Linked DNA regions of Homo sapiens. The protein of the gene in region 2 purifies or fractionates together with the protein of the main gene of each other region. This does not show direct contact. Each region holds a gene or a part of one and is shown on either strand. Other genes may lie near its edges.

Region 1 (7,027 bases), on a different chromosome or scaffold from region 2:
CACAAAATGGAACTCCTGATGTCTGGACGCGGGAGTATTCAGACTGCTTTCCGGGCTGATTCACAGAGGGAAAAACATCTGACCACCCAAATCCTAGAGTGAAGTCTCCTCACTCCCACAAAAGAAAATAGGCAAACAGCATAATGTTCCCTCTTAAAATGATGTAGACTGACTGTGTGTACTCAGCAATAGAGGCTCTGTGGCTTCCATATTTTATTTTCTTAAAACCAGAGTTCCTGGCCCTTCACTGAGCAGTCCGCAGTATAGGCCTGGACCTAGAGTTTCTGCCTACTTTAACCCTTAAATAAATGAAAATAAAAGCATTCACTTCATTATCTCAATGCTTATTGGTGGTCAATGAGGGATTATCTCTCTTTTGTCTTATATACTCTTTTTTTTTTTTTTGAGACAGAGTTTTGTTCTTATTGCCCAGGCTGGAGTGCAATGGCGCAATCTTGGCTCACTGAAAACTCTGCCTACCGGGTTCAAGCGATTCTCCTGCCTCAGCCTCCCAAATAGCTGGGATTACAGGCATGCGCCACCACACCCAGCTAATTTTTGTATTTTTAGTAGAGACGGGGTTTTTGCATGTTGATCAGGCTGGTCTCGAACTCCCAACCTCAGGTGATACACCCTCCTTGACCTCCCAAAGTGCTGGGATTACAGGTGTGAGCCACCATGCCCGGCTTATATACTCTTATTTTCAAAAGCCAACAGCAAATCTACAACAAGTTTAATTGCAAATAGATTTCCCCTAAAGGCAAGAGCCTGTGATTGACTCCACAGGAGAAGGGTCAGGAGAGGCTTCATTAAGTGAGACCTTAAGAGATAAACAGGTGATCACCAGACCGACATAGGGAGGGCATTTCAAACAGTACACAGTGAGCTGGCCCAGCCAGGGAATAGCAACAGGAGCACAGAGGGCTTCTGTTTGGCACAACAGGGAGCAAGACTGGAAAGATAAGCAGGGGCTTGACTGTAGAAATCTTATTCATACTGAAAAGCCTGCACTTGATTCTGTAGTGAAAAGCTACTGGTGCTTTATGTCTGGGAGTAACATAAAATAAGATTTGTGTTTGGAATGATCACTCTGGCAACAGTGTAGTGAATGGATCAGAAGGATATAAGCTCTCAGGGACCCCTAACTATAACTTTTAAAATGGTCTGGGTAAGAGATGACAATCTCACATTAAGGTAGCAAGAGTGAACACCAAAGGAACAATCCCTGGAAAAGCAGAATGTACCCGATGACTGAGGGGCTGGGTGGCTGGAGAATGAACATAAGGCAGTGCCTGGGATGACTCTCCAACTTCTGGCTGCAGAAGCTAGGTTCCCTTTACCAGTAGGGAATATAGAAGGAAGAGAACATTTGAGTTGTTGATGCTTAATAGATTGTGACTAACAAAAGCACTACCATCACTCTTTTTTTTCTTTTTTTTGAGACAGTTTCGCTCTTATTGCCCAGGCTGGAGTGCAATGGCGCTATCTCAGTTCACTGCAACCTCCACCTCCCAGGTTCAAGCAATTCTCCTTAACTCAGACTCTCCAGACTCCCCAAGTAGCTGGGATTACAGGCATGCGCCACCACGCCCAGCTAATTTTGTATTTTTAGCAGAGACAGGGTTTCTCCATGTTGGTCAGGCTGGTCTCGAACTCCCGACCTCAGGTGATCGCCCGCCTCAGCTTCCCAGAGTGCTGGGATTACAGGCGTGAGCCACCGTGCCCCGCCCATTACTCTTTCAGTTGAGCCTTCTACCCGCCCCACAGAAGCATTAATCAGATTTATACTTTTCCAGATTACATATCCTGGCTTAAGTCTGTACCCTAATTTACATTAAGAGTTGGAATCCTCACATGGAAAGGCGGGGGTGAAGATAAAAGGAGTGAGACTTAAATGGACATTCAGAGATGTGAGAATGTGGCTTACTTTCTTACTTTGCTTGTGCCATGTCAGTGCTAGAGGAGCAGCCTTGTTTATAGAAAATTCATTTTGCATTTTCTTAATTTAGGGAAACATGTACCACCATTGAAATAACCTCTCAGACTTTTGTTTGTTTGTTTGTTTTACTTTGTGAAAGCGTAGTGGGATTTCTTTCCTTTTTTTTTTTTTTTTTTTTAACCGAAGCAATGTTGGAAGTAAGTGGAATTTCAAAGTAAAGGAACTTTTAAAGCACCATGAAAATTTTAGAGAACATGTGTTCTCTGTTTTTTTCAAGAATGGAAGCAGAACGCTTCAGTTAGACCTTTAAGCATCATTATATTAATTTCAGAAATGGTGTTATTACTGAGATGAAGTGGTATATTTTATTTTTGCGATTTTTTTTAAGTCACATGCTCATATGTATCTGAATTTCTTGGAGTAACATTCTCAAAACAAGTTACATATAATTCTAGGATCAGGAAAGTAATAACTTTTTTTTTTTTTTTTTTTGAGACAGAGTCTCACTCTGTTGCCCAGGCTGGAGTGCAGTGGCGAGTTCCCAGCTCGCTGAAACCTCTGCCTCCCAGGTTCAAGCGACTCTCCTGCCTCAGCCTCCCTAGTAACTGGGATTACAGGCAGACGCCACCACGCCTGGGTAATTTTTGTATTTTTAGTAGAGACGGGGTTTCACCATGTTGGCCAGGCTGGTCTTGAACTCCTGACCTCAGGCGATCCACCCACCTTGCCCTCCCAAAGTGCTGGGATTACAAAAAATTAGCTGGGCGTGGTGGCGGGTGCCTGTAATCCCAGCTACTCGGGAGGCTGAGGCAGGAGAATCGCTTGAACCCAGGAGGCAGGGGTTGCGGTGAGCCGAGATCGTGCCACTGCACTCCAGCCTGGGCAACAAGAGAGAAACTCTGTCTCAAAAAAAAAAAAAAAGATTTTTTTAAAGAAATTCACCAATACATGTTATGTATACGCATGTCCACATACGTGAAGGGCAGGGATAGTATTACCTTCAGTATTATTGAGTGTTTAACAACAAAACCAACTATAGCTATGACTCAGTTTATAACACGTTTACCCTTAATAAGTTTACCTAATTAGAAATGTATATGTTAATAAAAATTTTTACACTTTAAAGAGGATTTTTAAAGAATGAAATCCTGACTCATTTGTTGTCTCAAGTGACTACAGATACCCCTTGAATTAAGATGGGGTTATGTCCTGAGAAACTCATCCTAAGTTGAAAATACCATAAAATGAAAATTCACTTAACACACCTACTCTACTGAACTTAATAGCTTAAGTAGCTTAGCCTCTCTTGCCTTAAACATGCTTAGAAGACTTAAATTAGCCAACAGTTGCGCAAAATCATCTGGCAGCACAGTACCCTGTAGCGTATTGGTTGTTTACCCTGATCTGTGGCTGATCGTGTGGCTGACTAGGATGGTGTGGCTGACTGGGAGCTGCGGCTTGCTGCCGCTGCGCAGCATCGTGAGAGAGGATCACCTGGCGTATTGCTAGCTCGGGAAAAAATCAAAATTCAAAATTTGAAGTAGGGTTTCTACTGAACACATATCACTTTCTCATCGTTGTAAAGTTGAAATATCGGAAGTTGAACCCTCATAAGCCAGGGACTGTCTGTGAATTGAAATTAGCCTAAAAGACAGCAGTAGTATCATATTTCAAAAAAGAAAATGTTATTTTGCATATACTGCCTTTACTCTGTAAAGTGTTTCAGACAGATTTTTTTAAAATATAATTTGTGATCTAAGTCCAATTCCTTGTTCTTAAACTAAATGTCCAGCTTTTGGTCTATTTTCTTTTTTCTTCCACATTCCTACTCTCTGTTATCATTTTTCGGATATTTATATGGTTTGAGTGGCAGGCAAGTTAAAAATCGCAATTTAAAATAATTTTTGTGTGCTTTTCAAAGTGAAGCTAAGTTGGATTTTTTTAAATAAGACTTTTTTCCGATTACAAAAGGAAATTTGTTGTGGAGATTTGGATATTTCTTTTTTTTTTTTTTTAAATGAGGCCTTGAGATTTGGAAATTTCTAAGTAGAATTTTGACACAGAATTCAAAATGACTGAAGAAATCTGCTGGATACCTAATGAGTCTCTTTAGAGTTGGGTGGATAAATTAGTCAATGGAAAACTTTATTGCTGTCAATATGGGGTATATTTGAGAACAGTAAAGGAATTAGTACAATAATGGGGTTGATTTGGCAATTCGTGTTTTAGCTACTGTGATGGTCATTAATTTAGAGATAATATAGGATAGTGGTTAAAAGTATGGATTTTGTGGCTTGGACCTGGACCTGGATTCAGTTCCTTACCCAGTACTCAGTAGTCATGTGACGTTGCACAAGTGATCACTTCATGCTTGAGTTTTTTTGTTTTTTTTTGAGACAGAGTCTCACAGTGTCACCTGGACTGGAGTGCAATGGCACGATCTCAGCTCACTGCAACCTCCACCTCCTGAGTTCACACAATTCTCCTGCCTCAGCCTCCTGAGTAGCTGGGATTACAGGCGCATACCACCACACCCAGCTAATTTTTTGTATTTTTAGTAGAGACGAGGTTTCCCCATGTTGGCCAGGCTGGTCTCGAACTCCTGACCTCAAGTGATCTGCCCACCTCTGTCTCCCAAAGTGCTAGGATTATAGATGTGAGCCATCATGCTTGAGTTTTTCTCTCCTCTTAACTGGGAATATTAACGGTAACTACTTCAGAGGTTAGGAGGATTAAATGAGATACTTAATGTAAAGCACCCTATAAATGGTAGCTATTTATATTAGTAGTTATTCATGAAGCAGTAGCTGAAGCCACAGCAGTTTAAGCCGGATTCTTCAATACATTGCCATTTTATTTTATATTTCTATTTTTATATCTATCTTTATAGAGTAGTCTGAACAAGTTATTTATCAGACTAAAGATGAACATTAGTAGTAGCTTAAACTCAAGTTTTAGCATTGTCCTTTCTTGGACCTCTATAAATAAGAAAATAATTGATTAAAAATCCACAAGTTATCAGTTATCCAGGAATATGCATTTTTGTTTCTTTCGTTTTTTTTTTTTTTTTGAGATGGAGTCTCGCTCTTGTCACCCAGGCTGGAACACAGTGGCGCAATCTTGGTTCACTACAACCCCTGCCTCCCCAGTTCAAGCGATTCTCCTGCCTCAGCCTCCCAAATAGCTGGGATTACAGGCACCCACCACCATTTCTGGCTAATTTCTGTATTTTTAGTAGAGACAGGTTTTCACCATGTTGGCCAGGCTAGTCTTGAACTCCTTGAACCTGCCTCGGCCTCCCAAAGTGCTGGGATTACAAGCGTGAGCCACTGCACCCAGCCAAAATATGTGCTTTTCTATTAACCTTCTTTTAGGGATAAGGAGTCTGACATTGAGAGGTGATGCACAGATGATCAGTTGAATGCAATAAAATATACATCTGGCCTGATTAGTTACTTTCCGCTAGGAATTATTTACTCCAAGTGTTAAAAATGTATTCTCTCATTTAATTTTTACAACAACCTTTTGAGCCTAGGTACAACTATTACCCCCAATTTACAAATAAACTGACATTTGGCCAGGCGCGGTGGCTCACACTTGTAATCCCAGCACTTTGGGAGGCTGAGGCGGGTGGATCACCTGAGGTCAGGAGTTCAAGACTAGCCTGGCCAACATGGTGTACTAAAAATACAAAAAAAAAAAAAAAGATTAGCTGGGCGTGGTGGCAGGTGCCTGTAATCCCAACTACTTGGGAGACTGAGGCAGGAGAATCACTTGAACCTGGGAGACAGAGGTTGCAGTGAGCCGAGATTGCACCACCGCACTCACTCCAGCCTGGGCGACAAGAGTGAAACTCCATCTCAAAAATTAAAAAAAGTAAAATAAGCTGACATTCAAGGGTGTAATAACCGGTAGAGGCAGGATTCAAACTCAGACTACCAATGGTTCAACCCATACACAACACTCCTGTCCCAGAATTCTAGAGTGTAAGTCCAACAATAGGCCTGCGTGTAATAAGAGGAGTCTTCTTCCCAGTCTCTGATGACATATTTGCAGAAGTTTTATACACAATTGAACACAGCATTGGCAGCTTAAGTACAGTCAGCATGCAGATAAGGCCAAAAGCATCCCAGCTGGGACATGCTTGGTGATTGCCATCTTTTTTTTTTTTTTTTTGAGACGGAGTCTCGCTCTTGTCCAGGCTGGAGTGCAGCTGCGCGATTTCGGCTCACTGCAACCTCCGCCTCCTGGGTTCAAACAATTCTCCTGCCTTAGGCTCCTGAGTAGCTGGGATTACAGGTGCCCGCCACCATGCCCGGCTAATTTTTGTACTTTAGTAAAGAAGGGGTTTCATCATGTTGGCCTAGGCTTGTCTTGAACTCTTGACCTCAGGTGATCTGTCCACCTTGGCCTCCCAAAGTGCTGGGATTACAGGCGTGAGCCACCAAGCCTGGCCAGTGATTGCCATCTTTTAAAGTGGAGACTGAGTTTTTTGTCCACATGTTTTCTTTTTCCTCTTTTCACTCACTTTTATAAAGTAAATGAAAATATTTACATAATCGTGCATATACTACCAAACAGCAAAAATAGTACACTGCTGAAACTGACCTGGCTGGCAAGTGACACCTCTATATGCTAAATTTAGCTTTCTGAAGCAGATGTACAAAAGCAATAAGAAAAGCAGTTTTGTTTTGTTTTTGTTTTGAGACAGAGTTTCGTTCTGTTGCCCAGTCTGGAGTGCAGTGGCGCAGTCTCGGCTCACTGCAACCTCTGCCTCCCAGGTTCAAGTGATTCTCCTGCCTCAGCCTCCTGAGTAGCTGGGACTATAAATGTGCACCACCATGCCCGGCTAATTTTTGTATTTTTAGTGCAGACAGGGTTTTGCCATGTTGGCCAGGCTGGTCTTGAACTCTTGGGCTCAAGCGATCACCCGCCTCAGCCTCTGAAAGTACTGGGATTACAGGCATGAGCCACCGCACTTAGCCTGAAAAGCAGTTTGTGATAGCAGTAATGTTCACGATTATGGATTGTTTGAAATAGTAGCTACAGGTAATCATTATTCTTTTAGCCAAGCATTCTCATGCCCTT
Region 2 (7,027 bases):
TTAGAAAAAAACAGAAGGCCAGGCACGGTGGCTCATGCCTGTAATCCCAGCACTTTGGGAGGCCAAGGCGGGTGGATCACGAGGTCAGGAGATCGAGACCATTCTGGCTAACACGGTGAAACCTCATCTCTACTAAAAATACAAAAACTTAGCCGGGCATGGTGGCAGGCGCCTGTAGTCCCCGCTACTTGGGAGGCTGAGGCAGGAGAATGGCGTGAACCTGGGAGGCGGAGCTTGCAGTGAGCCGAGATCGCACCACTGCACTCCAGCCTGGGTGACAGGGCAAGACTCCGTTTCAAAAACAAACAAACAAAAAACCAGAAAAACACGTGTTCAACGTTTCATAGTTGTCTAATTTCTGTTGAGACTATGGCCAACACACTTTATAATTCTTCCTCAGAGAAAACGTATTGTTTCTACATAGACTCTACTTATTAATAACAATCTTATGTGTGGCATCACTGGCCTGTTTGTATTGTTTTCTTTTTCTTTTCTTTCTTTCTTTTTTTATATACAAAAATCTCCATTCTAAGAACTCAAGTTAGGAAATGCCATAGGATTGGTTATGACTACCGAGAGTAAAAATCCACTGAAATTTTAAAAAACTGAAAAACGTTAAACCTCACAAATAATGAGAAAATAATGCAATAAACCCCCATGTGTACACCCAGCATCAGCAACTGTCAATATTTTGACAGTCATTTTTTATCCTTTCCTCCTTTTTGCTGAGATGTGAAAGTGAAATTCTCTGGTACAAAAATAACATAAATGGCTTAAAAGTCTAGCTATGTTTCTCTGGTGTACAAATTTTCTTTACAGTACATTTTTCTTTCCTTTCCCACAACCATTACCCAAATTCTACTGGTGGTCACTGAAATGCCGCTTATGATGGCCTCAACTAGAAAAATCTCTTTATTTTTCTACCTGCCTCCAAACAAGAAAGAAGTTGGTAACTCATGTCATAGTTCACAAGTCTCTAGGGATTCTACATGTCTGCTTCAAGCCGTCAGTGAACTTTCAGAAAACAAATGCAAATATTTTACATTTGTTTATTATATAAGGGGGTTTCAAAGCTTCTATCAACATTTTCATAGGGGCCTATTACCTACAAAAGGTTAAGAATCTCTGCCTCTATTATGTCTTGAAAGCATATCAAATATACTTTCTCACTTCCACTCCCTAGTTAATTCTATTTATTTATTTACTTATTTTGAGATAGGTTCTCTGTCACCCAGGCTGGAATGCAGTGGTGCAAGCACAGCTCACTGCAACTTCAAGCTTCTGGGCTCAAGTGACCCTCCTGCCTCAACCTCCTGAATGGCTGGGATCATAGGCATGCACCACCACGCCCAGCTAATGTTTTGTATTTCTTTCAGAAATGAGGTTTCACTATGTTGCCCAAGCTGGTCTCAAACTCCTGGCCTCAAGCGATCCTCCCACCTCAGCCTCCCAAACTGCTGGAATAACAGGCATGAGCCACCTCACCTAGTCCTTAGCCAATTTTTTATATCTAAATCAGACATTGGACACCACTTCCAGGATGCCTTCCCTGACAATGTCACCTATAACTGATTTCCCTTATGTTTTCCTACAAAAGTTAAGGTAGGTTACTTTCCTGTTTATCACAGTCTTTCAATCACTGGACGAGTATTTATCAGGTCCTACTATTTGCCAGGCACTATCCTATACTTTAGGTATGCTTTGTCTCCTAATGCACTGTTAGAAGAGGACAAGGAACATCACAGTATCCAATACGTCTTCTGTGTCCGAAGACATATTGTAGTTGTAGCTCCAGTGAATGGAAGCAAGGATGAGCTGCTGCATTTCTGTAGCTGGCATTCAGCTCAAGAATACGTAAAACCAGACTCGTGGTTTTTTCTTTCTTTCTTTCTTTCTTTCTTTTTGAATGTGAGGCCTTTACAGAAAAAGAAAATGTCAGTCTGATTATCCAGGGCATGAGGATAAAGAGAAGCCCAAACAAAGGTTTCCCCCACTCCACCCCACCCAATATACTGTGGCACTAGAAAACGATTCCAGAATCAGAAACTATATGCTGACGTCCATTAGCCCTCTTAGTAGCACCTGAAATAGACCAGCGTCTATGTGAGACCTGTAGTTGTGTCCTCACAAATAACCTGTTATAGACCAGCGTCTATGTGAGACCTGTAGTTGGGTCCCCATAAATAACCTGAACTGGAAACAACAGCTCGACATGAACTCTGCCCCCTACGCTGGGGATCAGGAGCACGAACCTCTATACAAAGGGCGGCAGAGCGGTTACTAAATGTGCTCATTTTTCGTCACTAAGAACGTGCATTTTTAAAGTGCATAGATCCCTGATGATAACGGAGTTGTTTGATAATAGGCGGTTGAAGATACTATTACGTTAGGGACCTGGAAGAAAGTAGTTAACGCTATTGTCATAGAAGCAATGGGGGGAGGAAAGGTTTGTGTCCAGTTTTGGGCAAAAACTTCTAAGTTCCACCCCGCCTTCTGATGGATGCTTTTTTGATGGGGCTCGTTTTGCAAAACTCAGCAGATTAGGCATGTTGTGTAGTGGAATGATTTGGAGCGTCTAAGCCGTGGCACCCTACTTAACCCCCCCATCTCCAGTTATCCCAATGAACCGACCCCGAGGGGGCATTTCCGCTGAAGTCCGGGGCTGTAAAAAATTAAGTGAGAAGAGCCGCGCTAAAGCCAAGCGTCGTCGTCACCCAAGGTACTGCGCTGATGCGCTGCGGGCCGACCAGGTGCTCCCGCCGGGGCGTCTTCTCCTACGCAGGAAGGGCCACGCCGAGAGAGGCAGGCAACAAGGGCACGGCTGGAGGCCGGAAGGTCACCCCGTCCCCGGCGGGGCGGGCGCGGCCCAGCCTCACTTCCCGGGCACGTTCGGGCGGGGCGATTGCAGGGAACGGGGCGGGGAGGCGACAGTCCCCGGCTCCGCCGCGCGCCAGCCCGCCTTCGCTGCCCGGAGGCGCCGCAGGCCTGGGTTCCCGGACAGCTGAGCCCGAGCGCCGCCTCCCGAAAGGTGAAGGCGGCCCGGGGAGGCGGGGACGGTGACGGGGGCGGGGGCCGCGGGCGGTCTCCCGACGGCTGTCGCGGGGCCAGCCCAAAGCCCCCGATCCCCGGTAGCTGCGCTTCCCGCGCGGGGCGCCGGAGTAGGGCGGGCCAAGCTGGCCTGCGGCCGCGGCGGGAAGAAGGGCTAGCGAAGCACCCCCGACCGGGCCCAGGCGCCGGACGCCGGGGGGCGCCTCGCTGCAACTTCTCTTTGGAAGCCCCGACACGAGCCCCGGCCCGCGCGCGCGCTCCCCCACGGCCACGCGCGCACCCTGCCGCCCGCACCCCCGCGCGCCCTCCGTCTATTTTTTCCTCTTCCTTTCATCCTCACACTCTAAAATAGGTCAAGGGGTGGAAGTTACACCTGGTGCAGCCCTCGGCTCTGATGCAAAAGCAGCTTTTGCCCCTGGCTGCGGGACAGCGCTGTGACTACTCGCAACGGGAGAGCTGCTGCCAGTCGCCACACCGTGCGGAAAGCGCCGGCGACCGGAGCACTGACAATGGTCTGCATAGGGGAGCGGAGAGAAGCTTCTGTTGCGCCCTAGATCCGCTGCCTCGGCGCCCGCCCGCAGGGAGGAGGGGGCGCGACAGGTCGTCTAGCGCGTGCCCCGGAGCCCGCGCCCGGGTCTGGCCGCCTGGGTGAGTTCCTGCTCGTCCCCTGCCTTTCCAGTAGCCCGGGGTGGCTGTTTACCTTGCAAACAGCCTTGCAATACGATCAAAACAGGCGAGACAGCCATGCAGTAAGGGATTGCGGGATGTGCTTTGGGTGTGAGATTGGATAAATCAGAATTCAGAGATAAAGGACATGTCTAGTGCCTTAAGGGTTAAAGTGGATTCGTATTTTTTCATGGAGTGCACGTGTATCTTTCCCTGGGGAACTGATTTTTAATTAGTAAGAGGCAAAGAACTAAGATAACTTGAAGCCAGAAAGTTTTCAAAGCTCACGATGAAAATACAGTTTAAGAAGGAATGCCAAAATAGGAAGGTAAGGATTTGTATGATATTACTTGCTATGTGTGGGGTTTTTTTTGTTGTTGTTTGACGGAGTCTCTCTCTGTCACCCAGGCTGGAGTGCAATGGCACGATCTCGGCTCACTGCAACCTCCGCCTCCCGGGTTCAAGCAATTCCCTTGCGTCAGTCTTCTGAGTAGCTGGGATTACAGGCAACCGTCACCATGCCTGGCTAATTTTTGTATTTTTACTAGAGACGGGGTTTCACCATGTTGGTCAGGCTGGTCTGGAACTCCTGACCTCGTGATCCGCCTGCCTCGGCCTCCCAAAGTGCTGGGATTACAGGCGTGAGCCACCGGGCCCGGCTGATTCTTTTTATAGTACTTGGGTTCTTTGTGATAAATGATGTGAGCCCACAATGCTCTATGTAGAAAGAAGATAAGGCTGTAAACGTCTACTTGCAGAGCTTTATGTTAGGTGGTAGGCATGAATTTAAATGTACATTGAAAATTTAGTGTGTAGAAAGAGCTAAAATATATCTATATTGTTTTCAGGTTAAGATTATTGGTAATACAGCTAACCATTGGCATTTCACCCTGTTTCAGCAATTAAAATTGCTATTATTCATGTGACATCAGCAAATGGAAGCCTTTATCTTTCTATTTTTTATTATTTATTTGTTTGTTTGTTTATGTTTGAGATGGAGCCTCACTCTATCGCCTAGGCTGGGGTGCAGTGGTGCGATCTTGGCTCAATACAACTTCCGTCTCCCGAGTTCAACCGATTCTCCTGCCTCAGCCTCCCCAGTAGCTGGGATTACAGGTGCAAACCACCATGCCCAGCTAATTTTTTTGTGTTTTTAGTAGAGAGGGGGATTTCACCTTGTTGGCCAGGCTGGTCTTGAACTCCTGACCTCAAATGATCCACCCACCTTGGAAGCCTTTATCTTTTAGCTAACGAATGGTTAACTTGTTTGAAGTTTGGGGAAGGGAGAGTTAGAACTTTCTCTGTCTTTGATGGCTGGCTGAGAATACAGGGTAAAGAACTGTCCAGTGTTGTGAGTGGTGCCTTAGAGTTGCTCATAGCAAGAAAATCACTTGGGAGGGTGGAAGTGGCTCTCAGATGGTCATTGGTTACCTATAACTTATTTAAAGAAGACCTTGAGAAGTTGGGACATATCTTGTCACTGAGGAAATTGTGCCAAAGAACTGCTGCTTTATTAACGCATTTGATCAGATTTGAAAAGAGAGCTCTGTATACACTCTTTTTCTAACTCCAAAGAAATTTTGTTTCTAGAAAGATTCAATTACCGTAATGATGTTCTTTGGAAATGTGCCTTTTTGCGTGTATATCTTAATATGGATAAAGTTCCAAGGTAGTTCAAAGGTTTTAATAAAATTTTACTTACCAGAGTGATGTGAAATTGGGAATACCCTGTGTGAATGGTTAACTCTACTTTAAATTGGAAGGTCAATGGGAGTGGGGATCTTCCCAGTAAATCTTAAATCTCTGTGTACGTGTATCTCTGACAGCGAAATCTTACTGGAGATTGCAGGGGTTGTAAAGAAGAGACCAGACCTTATAGTATTTCTGATACGCGGATATGTGAATGCTTAAATGCATTTCACTTGTAAAGAATTTATATGCTCCTTTAGAGAACTAGTCTCCAAAATTTGAAACACATTTATGAAGAAGGCTCTATCATTGCTTTGAAGAAGACACAAGCAAGACATATTTGGCACTATACAGGCTCATAATATTGAGAGCAAAATGCAATTAAATGCCTGTTTACTACATGTCACTGTTCTCATTTGTGTTTTTAAACAGGAATTGAGTGAAAGCTCTCATTGCGATTAAGCCCCTGGTATAATGCATTATTGAAATTAGGCTGTCAGCGCTTGTCTGTGCAATCTTATGTTTTTACTCGTAGATAAATTAGGAATTCTTCTGAAAAGAATGGCATGAAAGCATTAAGATAACTGGAGAATTCATTTAAGGACAGACTGAAGAGTGATGCCAAATGGCCATTTAAATGTCCTTCAGCTTTTGTGACTCACTTCTTTTGATGCCATAAAGAAAGTACCTTGCATAGAACTCCTAGCTGAGACATCTTCAAAAAGAGTTAACATCATTCATTTTGGATACTCACTTCTCATCCAGAGAAACTTCTAACCACTCAAAGAAGACATTTTAAGAGTTTGAACTAGATCACCTGGATTAAAAAGCCCAGCTCTGAGCCATTTCCTTGTCTGTGAAATGGAGATAATGACACCTCCCCAGGTGGCTGTGGGGAGCAAATGAATAGGTGTAAATGCTGAGTACACAGTTGGCACATTGTGAGCAGTCATAAAGAGGGGTTTATAATAAGAAGTAGGAGTGTGTTGACTAAATATCATCTCCTGGAGGCTGCAGAGAGGTTGCTGCCTAATAGACTCTAGAACTGAATATTTGGGTCACTGGTTTAATCCCCCATCTGGGTATACTGAATATACTGCTAGTATACTCCTATAGCATAGAGTATAGAATATGCTGTACTCTTAGTAATCAGTGTCCTTTGGGAGCCAGAGGCTGTCACACTTGCATCTTCTCCACCCTAGACAGGCCTTTGACTCAGCTAGGTTAAAGAAGTAACCTGTGGTTGTTTTTAGAGATGATGATGAGGTGGTAGGGGAAGGAGGGCACTTGAGGAGTTTGGTGTATGGTCCTCTTCACACATATGCGTGTTTTTATTCTCTTTGCCTTTCCCCGTTCCCTCCTATCCTCCCTTCTTTTCTCTCTAGGGGTCCCGATCATTATTTCCCAGCCTTTGTTAATATGTCTCGGCATCAACCCTAAGCCGTAAAGGGTTGTTAGTCCTGATTTGGGTAGTCCTGCAAGGTGCAGCCTATGAACTTCTTGTTCTTAAAGGTGTAACTGCGAATGTCAAATAGGCACAACCTTTGCCACTTCCATGGTTCTTCTGGGGTGTTACGTCCCATTTTGCTGTATCGAATGTGCTCATTTCTACCTTCTCTTTCTT

The links. The genes of interacting proteins can lie anywhere in the genome.
Region 1: the proteins of TRMT9B (region 2) and RUFY3 purify together in Homo sapiens (affinity purification with mass spectrometry; 3 studies listed by BioGRID and IntAct, with this or other methods). This does not show direct contact.

Annotation. Positions count from the first base shown.
Region 1 is NC_000004.12:70,724,943-70,731,969, forward strand, and holds part of RUFY3 (protein RUFY3), read left to right. Parts: intron 1-7,027. UniProt on the Homo sapiens protein: ARL8 effector that promotes the coupling of endolysosomes to dynein-dynactin for retrograde transport along microtubules. Acts by binding both GTP-bound ARL8 and dynein-dynactin.
Region 2 is NC_000008.11:12,948,663-12,955,689, forward strand, and holds part of TRMT9B (probable tRNA methyltransferase 9B), read left to right. Parts: intron 1-7,027. UniProt on the Homo sapiens protein: May modify wobble uridines in specific arginine and glutamic acid tRNAs. Acts as a tumor suppressor by promoting the expression of LIN9.